Regions from separate parts of the Homo sapiens genome. Here region 2 is reported to be linked to region 1. Evidence: microRNA targets listed by miRTarBase, many of them from high-throughput screens and not tested one by one. Region 1 holds a microRNA gene; the other region holds the end of a gene's coding sequence.

Region 1 (3,152 bases):
AAAATGGGCAAAGGATCTGAATAGACATTTCTCTGAAGAAGTTATGGCCAATACACACATGAAGATGACCAACACCATGAGCCATTAGGAAAATGGAAATCAAATGTTATAAGATACCACTCTATGAGAACACATGGAACACACGGACACAGGGAGGGAACAACACACACCAGGGCCTGTCGGTTGTGGGGGTTGGGGAGCAAGGGGATGGAGAGCATTAGGACAAATACCTAATGCATGTGGGGCTTAAAACCTAGATGATGGGTTGATGGGTGCAGCAAACCACCATGGCACATGTATACCTATGTAACAAACCTGCACATTCTGCACATGTATCCCAGAACTTAAAGAAAAATTTAAAAAAAGAGATACCATTGTACCTCCACTAGGATGGTATGATTTTTTCAGTGGCAAATAACAAGTGTTGGCGAGGATATGGAAGAAATCTGGAACCTTCATATAGTGCTGGTGGGAATGTAGAATGGTGCAGCTGGTTTGGGAAAAGGTATGGCAATTTCTCAAAATGTTCAACGTGGAGTTACCATGTGATCTGGCAATTTATATATATACCCAAGAAAAATGAAAATGTACATCCACACAAAAACTCGAACAGAAATGTTCATAGTAGCATTATCCACAATAGTAAAAAAGTGAAACAACCTAAATGTCTGTCAACTGATAAATGGATAATCAAAATGTGATAGAGCTATACAATGACATCGTTTGTTCATAAAGAGGAACAAAGTACTGATGCATGCTACAACATGAGACAGCCTTGATAACATTAAGCTGAGTGAAAGAAGCCAGTCACAAAGTCCTCAAATTGTATGATTCCATTTATATAAAATGTCCAGAATTGGCAAATCTACATAGAGAGAAAATAGATAAGTGGTCACTGGAAGTTGGGGGTTGGGGAAAGAAGGGAATGAGTGCTAATAGGTGTGGGATTTCTTTATGGGGTGATGAAAATCAGTTCTAAAATTGGCTATGGTAATAGTTTGTACAACTAACTGCATATGCAAAAAATATTAAATTGCATATTTTGAGTGAATAGTATGATGTGTGAATTATACCTCAGCAAAACTGTTTTTTTTTTAACAGTAGAGATCATTAAAGAAAAATCACATCAATAAAGAAAAGTAGATAAAGTGGACTTTAAAATCACCTCTCTCTCTGAGGAATCCCACCCCAAGCACCTTCCTAACTGCTTCCTATGCACAGAATCTGTCCAGACTACAGGTGACGAACCGATGACCAGGGGACCACTTGTGGCCTACAAATTCTTATTTTCTTGGCTTATAGAGAAATATTTAAAAAATATTTAAAATTTTTTAAAATATTTAAAAAATAAGTTACTAATATTTTTAAATTAGAAGAGTTCACATTAAACGTGAACTTCTGGCTTCTCTTGGGGGCAGGGGGAACCAAACCAAAATAAAATAAAATACCCCGACTTGATGGCCACACTGGACCCTCTTTTCCCACGTAGAAAAATGAGGCTGCCTTTTTCAGGGCCATTGTGCCCTTCTCAGTTTGTCCCTGTATAACCACTTAAGTTACTTCTTTGTCACCTGCTTTTATCCTTCAGGGACATTTGAGTTTGCAACACCTGTGCAGACCTTTTGCTGTATCAACGGGACGTTCCCTTAGGCCCTGCTTGATGATTGGCTAATCCTATGGTGGTTTCCAACCCTGGCCACACATCAGAGTCTCCTGGGGCCCATGTGAAAAAAATACCCATACAAAGCTGGACACCCCTGAACCCCGGATTTTTTTTTTTTTTAACAATTAGATTAGATTCTCTCGGGGTCGGGCCTAGTATTAAGAAAAAAGAAAAAACCAAAAACCAAAAAATCCAACTTTCCAATGCAAATTTTTGCTTGCATTGGATTAGCAGATTAGTCCAGCATTTCTCCTCCTGTGTGTCCAGGAAGGGAAATGCTGGGCTAACCTGCTAACCCAATGCAAGCAAAGGTTTTAGTATTTGATGATGGTTTAACAGCCTCCTAGATAATTTTTGTTTTACAATTGAAGGCAACCGGTAGAGCTAGGAAAGGGTGCTTTTGATTAGATGAAACTTTTACTTGGTGTTTAAATCAGAGTTGGCAGCTGTCTGGACCTCAATGTAACTGTCCTTTCTATAACCAGTCATGTTAAAAGATTTTGCAAACATTACAACGAGGAAGGCCAGGTCACGGTGCCTTTGCAGCCTTGTTATTTTTAAGCAGCAACTTTTTAAATTGATGAATTTGAGTTGCTCTTGAGACCTTCTGCGGGTTCTGGAAATGTCACCAGGGTTGACAAGCACAAGGAGTTAGTTACAGTGGCTTTTTGAGAGGCCATGAGTGGACGACACAGCAAGACAGGAAACAGGTGCTGGCAGCCAGCAGGTACTCGATAAATATTGGGTGAATGAATTGACAAGACATTTTGCTTCTCATTATCTCCACACGAGATGAAAAATTTGAGGGGAGGAAGGAGGGGCAGGAGAGGGGCCCCTTAGATGTCTTCCTCCGGATTTTTTGTTAAGCTTTTCCTAGACAGTTTACAGAAGGCTTTGGGTAGAGAAAGCACTAGTTAGACAAAAGCAGCCCCCCTCCCACCTTGTGGGCATGAAGAGTCCAGAGGACACCACCTGAGAAGCTTTTCAACTGCCTTCCAAGGCTCCCTTGAACTTCACTGCGGTAGAGCAGGGACCCCAGACCCCCCCTCAAATCGAAGCTTGGAAGGAGGTGCTCTAGGCTGAATCTGACCTCCCAGGACCCGAGGAGGCAAGCAGATGGCACCCCTTGGAAAGTAGCAGTGCAGGCTGGCTAGAGGCCTGGGCGGTGAGCTAGGACTATGGGGCACCGTGGGGACACGCCCGGAGGCTGCACCAGGGCAAGCGGGGGAGGGGGGGGGCGTCCACTGCACCTGCAAATCCCGCGCCTCATCTTGGCCCCCCTGCAACCCCGCGGTGAAGCCCACGCCGGAGAGGCTGCCTGCGGGGCTGCAGTGGAGAGGGGGTCTGCGGCCGCGAGGAGGGAGGCGGCGAGCCAGGCTGGGGAGGGGGGCGCGGCTGGCGACGGTGCTGTCCAGGGGGAGGCGGGCGGAGGGAAGGCGCTGCCGCTGCTGCCGCCGCCTCGCCCGAAGCGACACAGACGCTGGGAGCG
Region 2 (3,000 bases), not on the chromosome of region 1:
TGCAGGGCAGCAACCCAGGATGACGAGGTCGACGTCCCGGAGCCTCCAGGAAGCCAGAGAGCTACAGAAGCGGACACTTACAAACATGCAGCTAAGGCAAAGGACACATGTTGAGGAATTAAACTCGCAGGAGTTGATGGATGAGTCACCTGTCATTCTAGAGGGAAGGTAATCCTTCGCCTTGGGAGAAGAGACGACTTTCTAGAGTCGTAATTATTTTTCATGTGCATAAAAAAAATCTCTCCAGGAACCCAAAACTCACTCCTTAATAAAGTTTATAGCCTAGGACCAGTTTTTCTTGTTCATGTGCCTCTTAATTACCAGGAGCACTTGACACAGATCAGTATGTTCTGATTCAATTAAGTCTGGGATAAAAAGTCTGAGCATTTATATTTTTGAAAAGCACCACAGGTGATTCTGATGCTTACCAAGACCCCAAGACCACTAAGTAGATTGGGCTTCTCTTTCATGGATATGCCTCTAGTTAAAGCTAACTGTATAAAGAAGAAGAATCTCTCTCTACCAAGTGTGAGTACTGCTTTATCAACGGGCTCTAATTATCTCATCTAAAAGGACTTTGTTTTCCTTTTATCTCCACCAAGGCTGTTTCCCTCTTCTCTCTCCGTCTCATCTGAGGATGATCCAAGATCTCTGAGCCCGAGGTGGGTTTGTACCGCACAGTGCTTTACAGAATGCTTTGCACATCGTATAGCATTTGCTCATGAGAGTTTCCATTAACTCCGGGGCAATATACCAGTGCTCCAAACACAAAACACAGGCCAAGACTCCCTGAGGAAGCAACATGGGTGCACCCCCTCCATCCTCTCCAAATGAGAATGGCACGGAGTTATAAACATTATTAAATTTTATTAACAAAACATTTTGTACATTTTAATACATGTGGAATTTTACATCTAGGTAAAATAACAACACATTCAAAATTTACCATTTATACAAACTGTTACAGAATAACAACCAGTGGGTTAAATAAGTAAAATAAACCACACTGATTTTTTAAATTATCTACAAAAGATTTGACTTTAAAATTCCCCTGAACATATAAAAATAAATTAATTTTACTTTTCAATTAAATCTACCAATTAGAAATATTACAAATCAAAATATCAATGTTATCTTATGAATTTGTCACAATACAAAACAGATTCACAAAACTTTATTTACAGAAATGAGGTAAGAACTGTGCAATGTTTAACCAAGAAACATATTGCAGAATTAACATGTTCTTCCAGCTAAGTACACAGTGGAGGTCTAATTACAGCTGGGTCTTTTCCACTAATAATTCACACACCAAAGAAGAGTTTGATGATGACATCCTCAGTGGGGGAATCACTCTGCGGTACTGTCACATCAAAAGCGTGGCTCCCCAAAGTGGAAGGGCTGTCATACAGGTTTCACCTGTTTCAGGAACTCTAGTGGTGAGCTTTTAATGGTCAGTAATGGGAAGTGGTTTAAATAAAACAAATCTCTATTCTTACCAAATCCACTCCTTTTCTTGTGACTCATTAGTGGATAAATACCCAGGTAATAGTTTTGCCTGAGCTATCTACAGTGGCACAGAAAGTTCTGAATAAAGGCGGAAGCATGGGAAGGCTGCAGGTGACGGGATGATTCCTGCTGCTCGGAGGACTGACTGTCCCACCCTGCTGTCTACAGCCCTTGCAGCACAATGGAGGCACTTGATCAAGGGCAAACCCCACCAGCACTTTCCACAGTGGCCCCTTTCTGAAAGAAGTATTTAGCTTTGAATTGATCTGGTTCCCCCAGCAGCCTCAGAACTCACTTAACTCAAGATTTCTTCAAAATATGAGTAGGTCTTAACACTAAAGAAAGCAATTCTCAAAAGAAAATTACCTTTAGCAGATGCAGACATTACCATCCTAACTTCATTACCAAAATTGGCCAAATCCCATTAGAAAGGAAATTTTTTTTTAACAAAGATTGCCAAGTCCCAGGTGATGTGCTATATATTTGTAATACTGAATCAATGCAACTCCAGGAGAAGAAATTAGTTCCTTGGAATTTGACTTAGAGCAAGCATACTGTAACCCAAACAAAAGAGCATATTTCAACTTGTACAATAAAATCAAGTAGTTTGTAAATGGAGCAAGTATTTAGTTTTGCTATTTGCATCTCCAATTTATAAACAAAACTAGTTGTGTACCAACTATATTAAATTCTTGAGTTGATAAACATATTGCATGTAAATTATGTCACTTTAAAAAGTTATTAAATTTTCTTTCCATGTTCAAAAAACTGGGGTAAGGGGTAGGGGCATGGGAATTCCATTTCAGTGCAACAAAGCAACAAGAAAACTAATCAAAGCCTTACAAGAATGTCCTTGCAGCAATTAATCCTTTGTTGTGCATTGAGTTTCTTGTTGCGTTTCTTCATAGCTGTAGTAAAAGGACTGCAAAGGCAGCCAGATGAAGTGCTAGAACAGCAGGATAGGCAATTTCTAGATGTTTCTCAGGTGTCAACTTTTCTCTTGAGCTACAGGCCCAGTTTTATCACTAAGTCTCTGCAGGTAAACAAAAGAGCAGATGCGTTAGCTAAATCAACTTTTGATAATATTCTCCGAATTTGAAACTGTGACTGAGATAAAATGTGGTATAGAAAGTTACTCCCTTTTTTCTTGCAAGTTGGCAAGGCTACTTGCAACGTAATATATAGACATGAATTTACTAGTAAATACTTTAAAAACATTAAATTCAACAGTATAAAAAGACCAAAGAGGTGGGCCCATCTGAGGGACAGAACTTGTAAAGAATGAATGCAGAATTCATCTTCCAAAATCAACTTTTCCACAGAAGTAACATGGTACTGTAGAGAATGAAATTTTTATGGGCTAAGAAAGTCATCGGCTGTGATTCCACATTTGCTATTTGTCCTTGGGCTTTCTTTGCGTTTCCTTTTACTAATCTATAAAAAAAATGGAGTTACAGCCTATTATTAAAGACTGAAATCACAAATGTCACTGTA

Evidence for each region. The annotated mature microRNA hsa-miR-5680 reads GAGAAAUGCUGGACUAAUCUGC and lies in region 1 at 1,894-1,915, opposite strand. An mRNA with a match to its seed (bases 2 to 7 or 8) in the 3' UTR can be bound and repressed. Matches are read on the target gene's strand: a 7mer-m8 pairs with bases 2 to 8, a 7mer-A1 pairs with bases 2 to 7 and ends in A, and an 8mer does both.
Region 2: miRTarBase lists MLLT10 as a target of hsa-miR-5680. Seed matches in the 3' UTR shown: 7mer-m8 at 1,183-1,189 and 7mer-A1 at 1,102-1,108.

Annotation. Positions count from the first base shown.
Region 1 is chr8:102,124,246-102,127,397 of GRCh38, reverse strand. It overlaps MIR5680 (microRNA 5680), which reads right to left and starts at 1,966; the gene lies at 1,883-1,966. It also overlaps a transcript of NCALD not described here. RefSeq lists a silencer at 3,062-3,121.
Region 2 is chr10:21,741,478-21,744,477 of GRCh38, reverse strand. It overlaps MLLT10 (MLLT10 histone lysine methyltransferase DOT1L cofactor), which reads right to left. Exons shown (of 23, transcript NM_001195626.3): 23 at 848-2,539. The coding sequence ends at 2,495. The region is part of intron 1 of LOC107984214 (a long non-coding RNA gene); the gene reads left to right. Among named protein-coding and RNA genes, the nearest start is that of MLLT10, 210 kb to the right of the region's middle.